Regions from separate parts of the Homo sapiens genome. Here region 2 is linked to region 1. Evidence: fine-mapped expression QTL. Tissue or cell type: pancreas. Region 1 holds a variant in brackets; the other region holds the start of a gene. All regions are shown on one strand. Distances are between the middles of the regions.

The links. PIP is the estimated chance that this variant, and not a neighbour inherited with it, causes the effect.
Region 2: it holds the start of RBM38, and the variant in region 1 is fine-mapped to the expression of RBM38 in pancreas (GTEx, PIP above 0.99).

What each region holds. Positions count from the first base shown.
Region 1 is chr20:57,438,754-57,446,851 of GRCh38, reverse strand. It overlaps LOC124904939 (a long non-coding RNA gene), which reads left to right and starts at 7,206. Exons shown (of 2, transcript XR_007067672.1): 1 at 7,206-7,419. RefSeq lists enhancers at 4,804-5,663, 6,698-7,197, 2,615-7,198, 7,198-7,699. The variant T/C (reference allele first, on the strand shown) is at 3,823.
Region 2 is chr20:57,386,875-57,394,972 of GRCh38, reverse strand. It overlaps RBM38 (RNA binding motif protein 38), which reads right to left and starts at 3,577. Exons shown (of 4, transcript NM_017495.6): 1 at 3,155-3,577; 2 at 2,196-2,319; 3 at 1,640-1,694. The coding sequence starts at 3,391. It overlaps RBM38-AS1 (RBM38 antisense RNA 1), which reads left to right and starts at 1,917. Exons shown (of 2, transcript NR_149006.1): 1 at 1,917-2,694. RefSeq lists enhancers at 1,915-2,104, 2,859-3,358, 3,359-3,860 and silencers at 2,955-3,144, 3,495-3,894, 5,505-5,884.

The DNA.
Region 1 (8,098 bases):
CGACTTTACATACCTCACCTTATTTAGTTCTCACAACAATTTATAGCTTTTATTTAGGTGCAGTCACCCCTGCCTGCCAGACCCATGTGCATATCTGATTGTTCCCCTACCCCATTTTGTCTGTGTTATCTTATGTAAAATGCAGATTCCCCCATCTTTCCTTTATCCCTTTTGTTTATGTGAAAACTGTGTGTTTCTCAATATCCCACCCTTTCTCCTTTAAATTTGGAGCCCCCAAAATCATCTTCAGAGAAAGACATAGACCTGTCTCCCAGGTGCGTCCTTAACTTTGGCAAATAAATCTCCAAAAATGATTGAGACTTGTCTCATCGTTTTCTCCGATTGACAAGCCAAACCATTCACATGTTACAAATGAGGAAACTGAGGCTCAGAGAGGTATATAGGTACCCAGTGTGGTACACAGATTTGTATAAAATGACCTAAATTCATCCTTCCTTGTATCCACGCCCTTTGCAAAATGGTTTTGCAGCTCTTCCCATCAAAAGGCAGAGGTGGTTTCCAAACTCTTGAGTCAGGTTGGTCTTGTGACTTGCTTTGGCCAACAGAATTGCTGGAAGTGATACCGTGCCAAATCTAAGACCCCAAACTGCCTTGCAGGTTTCTTCTCTCTCTCTCTCAGACCCCTGTCTCCATCAGGAGAACGGTCTGCTGGAGAATGAGAGACCAGTTGTTCCCATCACCCTAGATGATAGTCAGAGCTTCCTGCAGACCTGGCAGCTGACTGCAAAAATGCATGAGGGATGCCAGCCCACACCAGAACCATCCAACTGATGGTTCAGGCTAAATTGTCAACTCATAGAATCATGTTTTAAGCAACTAGGTTTTGGGACGATTTGTTACATAGCAGTAGCTAACTGATACACTCACAGTCACACAACTGTTAAAGGCTGAGTCAGGACTCAAGGCAGGAGTCGGGTTTGTGGGACTCCAGAATCCATGCTCTCAACCTCTGTATTTTGCTGCCTCCCAGAAGGAAAATGAGGATAACAGGGCTCTAGCTGCTAAAGAGCCCTTCTCTTGTGTCCCAACATTCAGCTACATCTTCTAGGGAACGTGCCTAATCCCTGGCTCTCTCCTGCCCTGGCACCTCCTTTCATCCCCTGAGCCGTGCTCTTTCATCTCCTACCCTTACAAGGGTCTGGGTGGGGACAAAGCACTGGCTGCCACTTCAGGTTTCCCTGAGCCCCTACTTTGATCCGCTCCAACCCTGCTCGTTTTCAAGGTTTGTTCAGAATGCTGGCAAGAGCCAATGTTTCTACACGTACCTATCAGCAGCCATGATGAAAACCAGCTGTGAGGTTTAAAAATAGCCCCCAAGGGCTGCCAAAAATGCCAGGTCCCTGACTCGGAGAGGAGAAGCCAATCCCAAGGTGCGGCCACCATCATCAGGGAAGAGTCATAGCCACCACATGCCCAGGAGTCTTCCATGCCAGTCCCACAGGACTTGCCACAGGAGCTCAGCTGAGCCCGAGTCCCTAGGAGCAAAAGCCCCCGGAGAAGCGGGGATGGAGTTCGAGACCAGCCTGGTCGACATGGTGAAACCCCATCTCTACTGAAACTACGAAAATGAGCTGAGTAGTCCCAGCTACTCAGGAGGCTGAGGCAGGAGAATTGCTTGAACCCGGGAGGCAGAGGTTGCAGTGAGCCGAGATCGTGCCACTGCACTCCAGCCTGGGCAACAGAGCGAGACTCTGTCTCAAAGAAGGAGGAGGAGGAGAAGGAGGAGGAGGAGGAGGAGGAAGAGGAGGAGGAGGAGGAGGGAGGGGAAAATAAGGCAGGGCCCAGAAAGCCTCCCAGGGGCCTCTTCCCCCTCCTGCTTCCCACACCTCCTGCTGCCCCTCCCTCCTCCCCCCTTCCATCATTCTCTCCCCTTCCCTCTTTTTTTATTGCGTCCGAAGGGAAGAGACTGGGCTGTGGAGGGAGACTGCCTAGATCCCCCTCGGGAATTCTGTGATCCTAGGCAAGTGACGTCACCCTTGAGCCTCAGTTTCCTCATCTGTCACACGGAGGTCTGGCTTGCTGGGTGTCCTAAGGACCTACTAGGACGATGAGTCGGTGAGAGCACGATGCCGTCATTTCTTCTTTGGAGAAGGATGGGGATGAGGAGAGTGCCCTCCTCTCTTCTCCCTCTTTCTCCCTCCTTCCTGCCCTCCATCCTCTTTCCGCTCCCACACGCCCCTGGCCTGGCCCCCATGTGACGGCCCCCAGGGCCAGGGATCTGCCAAGCTGAGTCTACCTGCAGTGCAGCCCTGTTGCCCTGGGGCGCCCTGGGCCTGGCTCGCTGAGGGAGCCCAGACCAGGCCCGCTGCACCACCCCATCAGCTCCCACATCAGCCCTGTGCTGGGTGTTTGGCTCACAGCTATATCCCAGTGCCTACAATGCTGCATGGCACCTAGTAGGTGCTTAACAAATATTTGCTGAGTGACCGCAGGAACCAGCAGTAATTGTTCCCATTGACAAATGAGAAACTGAGGCTCCAAGAAGTTGGCTAGCTTATAGCAGAGCACAGCCCTTAAAGCTTGAGGGGACCCACATAAACAAAAGGGATAAAGGAAGGATGGGGGAATCTGCATTTTACATAAGATAACACAGACAAAATGGGGTAGGGGAACAATCAGATATGCATTTGTGTTTGGCAGGCCGGTCCTACCCAAGGTCCCAGAGGCGGATTTGAACCCAGTTTTGCTGGTGAATGACACCCCATTTTCTCATCTCTTCTAGCCGGCTTTCCCCTTACAGGCCAAAGCCTGTCACACAGGCGCTGTGTGGCCTTAGGTGATTCACACACCCTCTCTGAGCCTTGGTTCCTGCATTTGTAAAACAGAAAACTGACCTAGCTGCACTCAGGCACAATTTCCCTGGGCTCATTTTTCCTCTGTTCTCAGCATCCAGCACAGGCTGTGGCGTGAGGTCCACACCAAATAAATCTCTGTTAGTTAATTAATGAAAAGGACAAGTTTACTTTAGAGTATAAAAGTCTGCTCCGAAGCTCTCCAGTTACCGTCTCTGGGAGCATATTCTTTCTCTCTTCCATTTCAAAGAAAGAGAAACTGCAAAGGCACAAGATACACTGGAGATGTGGGTTATGCAAGGAAGATGAGGGGACCACCCCAAGCAGCAGAGCACCCCACCCCACTCAGAAAGACCTTTTTCCTCCATCAAAAAATAGGTGAATGAATGGGAAATGCCAGTCTTTCCATTGAAATGCAATCTTGAGGGACGAGTATTTCACAGGCCATGGACCGGCCTTGGTGCTGACTTTGACGCACACCAGCTCCTGGTCCTGAGCGTGTCAGCGGGGAAATGCCCTGCTTCTCCAGCTTTGCAGGATGGTTGTTCACGGCTTCTAGGACAGCGCTGTTCCAGGCTCTGGGAGACCCCGATGAGCAGCCGAACCCTGTCTATCCCTGAGGGAGCGGATGTCATGTGGGGCATCCGGAAGGTTCTGAGCAATTCTGCTTGGAATCTCAGAGGTTCCAACAGAACAGCTGCAAGTTACCAGTTGACACGTTCAAGCACCTGGATGGGTGGTCAGTTTCTGTAGATCCCAGAGAACTTTCTGGAAAGGTGGCAGTGTGTGCCCCTAGGGCAAGAGTCAAAGGTGGTAGCCACCCAGGGAGCCCCAAGGAGAGGTTCTGGCGCTCTCAGGACATCCAGGCCACACCAGTCTTCCAGGCACCCCCCCCGCCCCACCTCCAGGCACACCAGCTCTGCCCAGGTTGCCCAACCTGTATGTGTCCGGGTCATGGCCATCGTCACCCACAGCGTCACAGGCGTCCTGGCCAGCACCTGCCTCCTGC[T/C]AAAACGCTAAAAACAGCTGCATTACCTTGCCGGCCTCCAGTCCCTGAGAACAAACTCACCTGGCTTAAATAGAGTGGCTGGAAGAGCACTTTCATTAGGGGCCGCACATTCTGACATAGGGCTCCTGGCTGCTCCCCAGGTTGGGGGCTGGGGGGTGTCACTTTTATAAACTTCCACAGACCCTTCTTGCCAAGCCTACTGGACAACAGAGGCTATGATGAATCCAGGCTGACCGGCAGGTCCTGGCACCACTCACCTCAGAGTCTAAGGCCAGGCTGGAGTGACCAGGCTGGAGTGGTCAGGCCCCGCCCACCTGAGCTGCAGAGGGGCAGAGGGGACAGGGCCGGCTGCATGGGGTGTGACCTGTGCAGTCGCAGAGGGACCCTCACACTCAGAAGGGCCGCCTGTTGGTTTAATGCTCTGCTGTTGTCGTCTTAAAAGTCTTCGTCGTTTTTGAACGTTTGGAGGGGGGGCCACATTTTTACTTTGCACTGAATGCCTCTGAGGGACTCATAAGTGGGCCCCATCCCCCCAGGAGTCCCAGAACTCATGAAGGGGCTTCAGAAATGAGCAGCAGCAGAACCACAGACATCCCCAGGCCGGGGCCACCCTCTCGAGTATCCCGCGCCCTGGCTGTTGGGCTGCACGGTCACGTTCCCATGGTTGTGCTAATAGGGGTTGGGAGGGACATGCGTACACACACAGCCATGCAGTCACATGTGCAATAGCTGGTCACCCCACGCCTGCACTTCCAGCACTGGGAGTGGCTGGGAGGCCTCACCATGCCCCCATCACACCTAAGATAATGAGACAGCAGGGAGGGCAGGAGGAGCTGAGGAGGGGGTGTCAGGGACAGAAAGAGAGCCCTTGCCTCCCCCATCTCCGAGGAAAGGAGAGATCCCTCCCTCGCCCTGCTGTCAATCTTCCAGGAACTCCCTGCAGGGCCCTGAGAGGTGTGCATCTTGTCCCCTTGAACTCCCGCTGCCACCCTGAGATAGCGTTTGTATCACACCCATTTTAAGGATAGCAAAACTGAGGCTCCAAGAGCCAAAGCTGCTGGCTGGAACCAAGGCGAGCAGACACAGGAGCCTCATGCCCCGTAGTGGCTCCTAAGGGAGGACCTGCCCCCTGCCCCTCCCCCTGCCCATTCCTCTGCCCACACTGGCTCATGGTCATGGGGGTCTTCCCTCCTCAACCAGCACGCATGCGCCTTCCTCATCATAGCCACAGTTGGAGGGCAGGTCACTGCCCAAGGGCCCTCAGTGTGCTCCTGAGCCCGGGCCCGCTTCCCAAACCGCTTGGCCAGCCTTGCCCTTTGGCCCCAAAGACCAGGCACCAGGAAGGGGCTGACTGGTGGGACAAGCAACATCCAAATCGGAACACCCTGGGGGATGCAGGAGTGGGAGCGGGGTCCTGGGGGAGGGACAGGTCATTTCTTGGCCTGGCTCGGGGCTCCCGTTGCAGCAGCGGGAGTCCTAGGAATGTTTCTCCACCTTGCCTTCCCTCAAGGTTCCCAATGGAAATTTGCCAGAGGTTCCTCATGGCAGCGCGTCTGGCAGGGGATCCGGGACCGTCTACCCAGGCTTCTTAGGGTGGAGCTCTCCCTTGAGTCGAGGGGACCACAGTCTGCAGAGTCTTTGCTGGGCAGGCAGGGCAGTGCGGGAGGAGGAGACAGGCAGGCCTGCTACTGCTGGCCCAGCTGCCGCCGTCTGAGCCTGGCCAAGCCCAGCTGCCCAGGCCTTATTTGGTAAGAGCCTGTGCTGGCCTGGCCGCTCCAGCTGCCAGCTGATGGGACACCCAGAGCCCCGCGCAGGCCTGTGCGCATGCCAGGCCTCTCACCCGGCCCCTTGGCCAGAGATGGCCGATTTGGAGGCGGGAGATCCCGGGGTCAGGCCAAGGCTGTGGCAGCTTCCATCAGATCCCAGCCCAGGGTGGGACAGGGATTCCCCGGCTTTTGACTATATAAGGCCGAGGAGAGGCAGCGCCGCTGAGCAGGCCTGCAGGCCCCGGAGATATCGTCTTAAGAGGGTGTTTGGCATTGGGAGCGAGGCCTTGGATTCCTGCAAAAACCTGGCAGGGAAATTGTTTGACAGCTTTGACAATGTGCTGAAGTCTCCCGAGGGGAACCCGCCCCCCCGGAGACGGCTGGCCAAGGGCATGTGACGCTTCAGCTGCCTCCAGGCTGAGAGTTCGGGCAGCCAGGCCAGACCTGTGGCCTGAGGAGAGGCCAGCCGTGGGCAGTGGTGCCCGGGAGAAGGCAGTGGGGGTGGCCCCAAGCTTGGCTTCCTGGTCTGTGTGGAGCGTGGAGCAGCACCCACCGCCCATGGGGTCCTCAGGCCTCAGGGAGGAAACAGTGGGGAGGAGTGCCCCCAGGGTGCCATCAGGGGAGCTGCCAGGCCCCGAGTCCTGCTGCTGGCCAAGTGCACTGAACAGACTTCATCTCTGTCCCCTCATTCATGCCTCACAGAGACCAAGGACTCAGATGCTCCTCTCATGCCTGCTGACAGATGAGGAAATCGAGGCTCAGAGGAGGAAAGAGATTTAAGACACTGGGCTCTTTCTCCAGCCCATTGGGACCTCCACAGGTCAATATTCATTTATTCTTCCACTCCACGACCACATCCTGAGCTTTGATCTGGGTGGGGCACCATACCAGGCCCAGGGCAGCCACTCAACCGGCCAAGAGATGACTGTTCCCCAAGGAGACAGATATTCCTTCAAATAAGAGGGACAAAGAAGGCCTCTCTGTGTAGTGACCTTGAAGCTGAGGCCCAAAGATGAGAGGGGGAAGAGCATGGTGCTCCAGGCAGAGGAAACAGCGTGTGCAAAGGCCCTGGGGTAGGGCGAGGCCTGGCCCAATCTCAGGCAGCCAGGAGGCCCACAGGGCTGGAGCAGAGTGAGCAGTGGAGTTGGGGAGATTCGGTCTGAGATCGCAGGTGCTTCCAGGGTCTGTGGGGTGTCACATTTTATTCTGAGCAGCGGGAAGCTGGGTTTGAAGCCGGAGACCTAATAATGTGATCCCCCATGAATCACATGTCTGCATCTGCTAAGTGCTCTATGCTCATTTCCTCACCCAGTTCCCCATCCCTCATCCCTGTGAGGCGGGGAATCTCTAGCATCAGTTTACCAAAATGGAAACTAAGGCTCCCAGAATCAGTGATGTGGGAGGGGGACAGGGATCCTCCCTCGGTTCTGTCTGGTGCTGGAGGGGCAGCACATTGTCCCGGGTGGCTGATCCTGGCCCTGACTCCCTGCTGTCCCTTCTACTGCCCCACCCCCATCCCGCTCAGGTTTTCTGCTGCCATGGTGACCAACTCACCCAGCTTTGCCCGGGACCTTCCCAGTTTTAGAACTGAAAGTCAGGCTTCCCAGGAAAGCCCTCAATTCTGGGCAAACTAGTTGCTGGCCAGCACCACCAGGAGCTCAGGGAGAGAAGAGAGGACAGCCAGGTGCCCTCCCCACCACCCGCCTGGCCCCATGCCACCTCTGCCCACACCAGGCGGGGCCATGGAGAGGAAGGCAAATAGCAACTAGTGCCCAGTGTGCGGCCTGGCCCCACCTCCTGCCAGTGCCTGGGCAACACCTTCTGCTAGGGGGTAAGCAGGACAAAGGCAGGGCCGAGCTGGGGGTGCAGGGCAGAGGGGTCGGGGGTGGGAGGGTGGGGGAGTGGGGTGGCACGGCAGAGGGGTCAGGGGGATGGGGGGTGGGAGGGGCAGTGCAGGAGGAGGGGGGGTGGGAGGGCAGGGCAGGGGGGCTGAAGGGGCATGGCAGAGGGGTCAGGGGGTAGGAGGGTGGGGGTGTGGGGGCGCAGGGCACAGGGGTCGGGGGTGGGGGGCAGGACAGAGGGGTCAGGGGGTTAGGGAGGTGGGGGGGTGTGGGGCAGGGCAGGAGGCTGGGGGGTTAGGAGAGCAGGGCAGGGGGGCGGGAGGTGGGCAGAGGGCAGCTAGGGAAGCCGGAGGAGCGCAGGAGCAGGCCCAGGTACTGGCCACACCAGGAGAGCTCTTCCTCCAGCAGGAGACTCACATAGGCCTGCCTTTGAACCCACAGGCTCTGTGACATTGAACATCTTCTGGTTGCTTCTTGGTTGCCCCCCCTATAATATGGGAGAGCAACAATAGCCAGCAATAGCCAGGAAGCTGCTGGGTGCCAGACTCTGTTAAGAGCTGTGCTTATGACCGCCTCCTGGAATGCACAGGCACCCTTAAGAGGAAAGGCTTGTTTCTCTGTGCAGACAAGGAGCAAATCCCAGAGAGATGGAGACTGCCCTGGGTCACA
Region 2 (8,098 bases), 52 kb after region 1:
CCAGAGGCCAAGCACTGATGGGTATGGAGTCCCAGAGGTAGCTGTGTGGATCAGAGCGAGCCCAGACGCACGTGGGAAGGCCTTATCCCACTGTAAGCAGAAAAGAGCTGCAGGCACTGGAGGCACACACCCTCACCTCTGGGCAGCTGCTCCCGCCCAGTCCATGCCCCCAGGCGCCTGCTGTGGGCCTGGGGAATGGAGCCAAGGTTCTGGAAAACAAGGAACACCCTCTTCATGTGGCCTGAACCCCATAGGAAGAATCTCGGTGAAGGCATGAAGGCTACAGTGTCCCCAAACACCCTCTAAGACGACTCTAGACATCTACAAAACAGATTCCAGGACGAGACGGACAGGGCCGCCTGCTCCCACCACCCTACACGCTCCCTTCCCAGGAGGACAGAGGCACCCCGGCAGGAACCTGAGCTGCCCGGCCACTCGCACAGGCTAGAAGGGCCCCGGCCACCCTCCAGCACCCCTCAGCCAGCGGCTCCTCCCACTGCTACACTTGCACACATCCACCAATACACACGGAAGCCGGCAGGGAGCCCCCGAGTCACCCCAAGCGTTCCCAAAAAGTGGGCACAGCAACTTCTGCTGGGGCCTCTGACCCATTCACCTGGGAGCCAGGCCCCAGGGGACCCATTCACCTGGGAGCCAGGCTCAGCCGGGTTCCACAGGATCCTTGTCCACACTGCCCCAGTCAGGCAGGTTACTCCTCAAGCTGTGTCTCTCTCAATGGAATCTACGTGGTGCGCACATGCGTGAGCACACACACGTGATCAACTGGCATTAGGGATTTGGATTCAGAAAGTTCATGAAGTGCCAATGCCCTGAAAGGGGTGGTGGTCTCTGAGCTGCCTTCCCCTCCAACTCCAACCCCATCAATATGCCACGGCGCTAGGGCAGACAGCTTCCATCCATCATGGGGGTGGGGAGGCAGGCCGCAAGGCAGGACTCTTTGTATCCCTTAAGTGTGTGTGTCCCTCCCCAAGCAGCTGCCAGGACTTACTAGATGTTTTAAAAAAGGGCAGGGAGGTGGGAGGCGTTTTAGGATGGAGAAGAGTGGGCTGCGCTGCTTGTAAATGAGTCAGACTAGAAGCCCATAGGCCAGGCCACTCAGGCAGGTGGCCTCCACCCCAAACACATCGTATCTACAGCAACGTTCACAAACATCAGACCTTGGTAGCAATGACCTACTGCCACCACCTGCCCCAGCACTAGAACAGGTGAGAGGAGTGCCTGGGGAAGAACTCAGCCTGCCAGTCCCTAAGAGTCATCAGCAAACACTTCAAGAGGGCGTTACCTGCACCAGGCCCACCCTAGGCCCTCCATTCAGAGAACTCAGATGTGCTGTGACCACTCCCATTTTACGGGTGAGGAAACTGAGGCCACACACCTAGCGAAGGGAGCTGGGGTGTGTACCAAGGCAGGCAGGCTCCAAGGCTCACCATCCCCTAGGTGGTATGGCCTCTGCCAGGGATGGAGAAGTGCAATCTGCCTTCTCTTCACTCCCTTGGCTTAAACGCAATCAAATGTCTGAAAACTGTCATTTCCCCAGCCTTCCAGACCCAGGAAGCCCAAGGCCCTCTCCACTTCATCTCCACGGACTACCCACCCCAAGCCAGCCATGTCCACTCACCCGTAAGTCCGCTGGATCAAGGTGGGGTGCAGCTGCTGCACCCCAATGGCAAAGCCTAAAACGAGAGAACAATCAGGGACTTGGCCTTGCTGCACGAGCCACGTCTCAAGGGCTGCACACAGGGTGGCAGAATCCCACAAGCCACACACCTCTAGTCAAAAGGGATCATCCGCTTCCTCTCCCCTCCCAGGCCTCCCCCTTGTGAACCCCAAGGCACACCGCTGAAGTGTGGCAGTGAGTGACGCAGGTGTCAGCAGCCACTGGTGTCGGCACTCCCAACCTCCAGGCCCCATGGCCACTTCCTCCCTCCTGCGAGGACAGCTGGCAACTGGGGTGCAGTACCCTCCCTGCCCCCCGCCCCCTTCTTTGGGCCACACGCTGTGAGAAGGGGTCTAGATCCTCGAGGGGGGGATGGCTGCCCTGTGCCGGCTCTGCAGGCACATGATAGCCGACTGCCACTGCTGGGGCGAGGAGGGGGGGCCTCTTTCCACCCGACAGATACCGACACCCAATATAGAAACCGAGAAGAGCCAGGCAGGAAAACACAAGCTCTCACCCGTCTGGAGGCTCCGCGGCTTGGCGCCCAGATATGCCAGGTTCACGTTGGCCTTGCGGCCGTCGATGATGGGGTTCGGGTCTTTGCAAGCCCTCTCAGCTGCCGCCCGGTCGGCCATGGTCACCTGGTGGAGCAGAGACACATCAGGGGCTGCCGTGGGGGGAACCAGGGGCGAAAGGGGCAGACGGCTCCGCCCTGGCACCGGATGCTGCCACCCCTCTCTTCCCTTCCTCTGAGGGTGCCTGTGACCCAGGGTCCTTGAGCCAAAGCTCCTCTGAACCCTACCTGGGGCTCTCCCACAAAGATGCCTCCTGGATTCCAGCTCCTCCCGTCAAAGTTCAAGGCCTGGGAAATGTGGCCTTCAAGGACAAAAATAATCCCCTGCGGGGATAGGGCAAAAATGAACCCCGAAGGGAGCTTGGGGGGCCGCCTGGACTTGCCCACCAGTGAGGGCCGAGACTTTCCTCTGAGAAGGAGTTTGCGACGCTATGCTTGGAAGGTAAGCAGGAAAGTGTCTTCAAGACGTTTTTACTTAAGCTGATGTTTATTTGGGGCGGCTGAGAGGGCTGTTAAAAATATGGGGGAGGCCGAAGAGCTCCTAACACCCCGGGGTGGAGCCATTGCTCCTCACCCCCCGCTGCTCCAGGAAATCCCGAGTGCCCTCTGGCTCCAAAACCTCCCCACCAACTTAGGAGTCCTAATTGAACACAGCGGCTCTTCCTTTTAAACCGGGGGTGGGGGTGGGGGTGGGGGTGGGGGTGGGGGCCGGGGCCTGGGGTGGTGGGGGCGGGACCGGCAGGAGCGCGCCCGGGAGAGGCGGCAGGTGCGGGCGCCGGCTGGAGGCGCCTGGGGCGGGGGCGGCAGCGGGCCGTCTGGGCGTGTGCCCCGGAGTGGACTCGGCGCCCGGGCCGCGATAAGGTGTGCGGCGGGGTGCGGGCCCGGGCGCGGGGGCCACTTACGAAGCCGTAGCCGCGGGACTTGCCCGTCTGGCGGTCGGTGATGACCACGGCCTCCTCGATGTCGCCGAAGCCCTCGAAGTACTTCCTGAGCGAGGCGTCGGTAGTGTGGTACGGCAGGCCGCCCACGAAGATCTTGGTGAACGTGGTGTCCTTCTGCGAGCCGTGCATGGCGCCGGGGGCGGCCAGGGGCCGCGGGAAGCCCGCGCTCGGGGCGCACGGCGCGGGCTGCAGCAGCATGGGGGGCGCCCCGCCGCCTACGGACCCGGGCCGCGCGGGGCTGCGCTCATGGGGGGCGGCGGGGAGCGCGCGGGGCAGCGAGGGGCGCCCGTCCAGCCGCCAGGCCCGACCACTCCGGCGCCCGTCCCGCCGTGCGCGCCGACGTGCGCCGCGCTGCGCTCCCGACCGGCGCTGCGGGGACTCTGCGCCCCGGCACCGCCCCCGGGCTTTGTAGCCTGCCGCCCCCGCCAGCTCAGCCCCGCCCCCAGCCGGCCCCGCCCCGCCCCGGGCGCGCGGGGACCGCCGGGAAGCGTAGTTCTAACCCCGCCCAGCCGCACCCGGGCGCGCGGCGATTGGGGGGAGGGGGGAGGGGAGCGCACGCGGGCTGAGGGCGGATCCGGGCCTGGGGGCGCTGGGCGCGCCTTTCTCTCCTGGCTGCCCCCGCGGGCCCGGCCGGTTGCAGGCACTAAGCACAACCCTGAACTAGGGAGGCCAGGCCCCTTCCCTCGTGGAGCGCACCGTCTGGTGAATTAAACGTAAAAAACGTAAAAAAACGTAAACGGTTTTTAGCATCTTGTTAATTGAGTCGGTATTTAACCCAGGGCGACTTAGGGAAGAGCCACGTGCCATATTAAAAAAGGGAAATGATTTCTGTTTTATATGTAAGATTAGTTCATCCGACCGATATTTACTCTGGGCGCGAGGCTGCAGCGGAGCACAGATCATATTCCCTGGCCCCACGGAGCGTCCAGGACTGAGAATTCGGCTAGTAAACATACAGCATACGACCCCGGAGGGAGCTACACCACGGTGCCGCGATAGAAGCGGGTCCCGGGCGGTCTCAGAGGCCCCGCGGGAGATGAGGTGGGCAGAGGAAGCAGGTGTGGGCTCTTTCCAGCTCCACCCCGTTCTGGGCTGGTGTCAGGGACCCTTGGGGCGAGTAAGAGCAGACCCGGGTCCCTCATCCGGCCCCCAGCCATAGAAAGGCGGCGCATAGTGGGGCTCTGTGAGCTTCACACCAGGCAGGGCCAGCCACAGAATTTTCGGGGCCCAGTGCAAAATGCAAACGCGGGGCCCCTTATTCAAAAGCTAGGAATTTCAAGTTGGCAGCGGTTGAGCATGAAACTCAGCCCCGGGCTTTCCTGAGCGAAGGGAAGGGCCGTGTGACTGCACAGACCCCGGGATCCCGGACCTGCGGGTCACACCCTCCACCTCTGAAGCCGGGACTAGGGGCCTCAAGCCCGCCTCATCTCCAGCCCCCGCGGTTGGGACCTATGCAGCTGGGAAACAGCAGCTCTAATTGGGGTCACTCCCGGCCCCAGCCCTGCGGCCTCCTCTCAGCACAGGGCGACGCAGGTGGGGTCTGTGGGGACTGGGAGTGGCACTCCGTGGGCTGTGGGGGACCGCAAGGCCGGCGAGGAGTTCCCCTCGTTTCCTCCAGCACCGAGGAGTTCTCCGCGTTTCCTCCAGCCCTCTGCCCTGGCTGCCGGCGGGGAGGAGTCTGCCCGCCCCCTCCCCCACTCCACGGCCCACGCTCCACGCGGCAGCCTTGACCTCTGACCTCTCCCTCCCCCAGCTCCCGCTCTAGCCCTCTGCACAGTGGGGATGGGACCCCCGAGTCTTCCGGAAGCCTGGGCGTCCTTTCCTCCCTTCCCCCTTCGTTCCTCGTTCCTGGCGCTCCTGCCCCCGCTTGCGGCCCCCGTTGCCCTTCATCCCGCGTGGTTTCCTCTCCTTCCTTCGCGGAGTTTCCCACCTCCCCGGCCCTGTGTGTTCGCCTGCCTGGAGCCCCTCCCCTGCTATTTGGGCGCTGCGAGAACAGGGACCTGGGATGTTTTGCCCAAGCTGGAGGGCCTGGCAAGGAGAGGGCTCTGGGATATGTTTGTTGAGTGTATCCACGATGGAACAAGGTGGGGTGGGGGAAAGCTCTGGCCCAGCCGGAGGCCCTTCGAAGCGACTTTGAAAACTTTCATTTAAGTGTGACCTTCACTTGCCCCCTAGAGGCCGGGGGAGGCGGCCACTGCGCGGCCGCGTGCTTTTGCGCCAGCTGGATCCCTTCACCAGGCCTCGGTTTCCCCTTCAGTTTTTCCAAGGCTGTCCCCAGCCGTCGCGTTGCCTGGGCAGGCTGGAGCCGCGTCGGTGGCGTGGCCACGGGCTTCAGCCCGGAGGCGCCCGGGCTCCCGGCCTACAAGTCCCAGCGCCGCCCGGGCCCGCCTCGCCCGCGCCCCTCCCGGCACGACAGCCCCACAAAGGGGTGCGGCCGCTCGGCTGCTGCCGCGGGGGCCGGGCCCAGGCGGCAGGGCAGCCCCGGGGCCTCTGCCTGCCCGGAAGGGGGCGGGACAGGGCCGTGGAGGCTGGAGACGCGGTTGCCCAGGTGCGGGTCCAGTCGCACTCCTTCGCCCCCCGCCCCCGGGCCCCCTTGGGTATCTGGATCACCAATCCCTCCCCCCCTCCGGCGGCCCCATGTCTCCACGGGTCACCAGCTTCTGCCTGACAATCAGTCATTCACCCAAACACACACTTTTTTTTTTTTTTTTTTTGAGACAAGGTCTCTCCCTGTCGCTGGAGTGTAGCGATCATAGCTCATTGCAGCCTCGACCTCTCGGGCTCCAAGCCATCCTCCTACCTCAGCCTCCCAAGTAACTGGGATTACCGGTGCGTACTACGATGCCGGGATAATTTTATATTTTGTGTAGAGGCTGGTCTCGAACTCTTGGGATTAGGCAATCTTCCTGACTTGGCCTCCCAAATTGCTGGGATTACAGGCTGAGCCACTGCACCCAGCCTCAAACACACATTTATGTGCACCACTGCACTCCAGCCTGGGCGACAGAGCAAGACTCCGTCTCAAAAAAAAAAAAAAACTACAGTCTCATCAGCGCCACTACTTGACCTTGTTGTTGAACGCATTGATGAAGAAGACATTGCTTGTCTACATTGCTACATCACATATTTGTTTTTTAAATATTTTCATAGCCGTTTTTATTTGTTTTAATTAGAGATGGGGTCTCTCTATGTCGCCCAGGCTGATACAGAACTCCTGGGCTCAGTTGATCCTCTTGCCTCAGCCTCCTGAGTAGCTGGGACTTCAGGTGCATGCCAACACACCCAGCCTATATTTTAATGTGATTGTTTTCCTTTGCTAATCTAAGCATTTTATTTGTTATTATTATTTTTTATAAAGACAGGGTCTTGCTGTGTTGTCCGGGCTGGAGTGCAGTGGTGTGATCATAGCTCCCTGCAGTCTCAGCCTCCCGAGTAGCTGGAACCACAGGCATGCGCCCAGCTGATTTTTTAAATTTTTTTTTGTAGAGTCAAGGTCTCCCTTTATTGTCTAGGCTGGTCTCAAACTCCTAGCCTCAAGCAACCCTCCCACCTCCGCCTCCCAAAGCACCGGGATTACAAGTGTGAGCCACCGTGCCTGGCTGGTAAGCATTTTAAGTGTTTAATACTATTACCTTAGGTATCAGCTGACTGCCAAGGGTTCCATGGCCCACAAAGGGCCCCTGGAAAGGGAACACAGTTTTGTGAGACTAGGCTGGGAGCCAGGCTGGGCAGAGGTGACTTGGGTCCCTCAGGCCTCACTGGGGAGCGGGAGGGAGGACTGGCAACTGTGTGTGCTGGGTGAGAAAATGGAAATTGCAGGAGCTTGGAACGCAGAATTCCTGCTCAGTGTGAGGATGAGCCCAGCACTTTCTGTGTGTTATCTTAGTTCATCTCACAAAAGCCCTAGGAAGAGATGACTACGATGATGCCCATTATATAGCTGAGGAAACTGATGCTCAGAGAGGTCCTCTCCTGCCTCCCTCGCAAATGTGTGATGTGTGCAGGGCACAAATGCAGAACTGCCTGGCCTAGGCCTGCTCTCTGCTCCCAGCTGTGGCTCCAGCTGCCCTGCAGAGGAGGGAGAGTGAGTTTACCCTGATGAGGATGTGCAGAGAGGAGCAGGTGAGGCCGGCCACTGCGATCTGAAACAGCACAGCCCCATCCAGGCAGGGCTCTGGTTTGAGTCTTCAGGCCCCGCGCTCTTGGGCCTCCTCTTTTTGTTTGTCGTGTTGGTGTTTATATCAAGGCTCTTCGGGGACTCAGCTTTGGGCTGAGCTTGGTGCAGGTGGCCTGTACACCCCCAGCCTGCAGCCCAGCTCCTTTGAATCCATGGGAGCCCCAGGTTGCCATTTTCATCTGCCAGGTGCAGAGCAGTGAGCCTGGGAATCCCAGCACTTTGGGAGGCCGAAGCAGGTGGATCACCTAAGGTCAGGAGTTCGAGACCAGCCTGGCCGACATGGTGAAACCCCGTCTCCACTAAAAATACAAAATTAGCTGGGTGTGGTGGTGCGTGCCTGTAATCCCAGTTACTCGGGAGGCTGAGGCAGGAGAATCACTTGAACCTGGGAGGCAGAGGTTGTTGCAGTGAGCCGAGATTGCACCACTGCACTCCAGCCTGGGTGACAGAGTGAGACTCCATCTCAAAAAAAAAAAAAGTTTCCCCATACTACTGGGCACAGAGGCCAAAATGCACCAGCAGGCACTGGTACTGGGGAGAGGAAAGGTTCAGCCCCTCTCCAGGTGGCAATGACAGGCTCAGTCGATGCTGTCACAGGCCGCCCCAGCAGCATTGGTGGACAGCTCCTGGAGCAGCAGAGTGCACATGCCTCAGTTTCAGCTGCAAAGACAGAAAGACACTGGCCTGTGTGCATGGCCGAATCCTGGCCTCTGCATCCTAATCCCTGG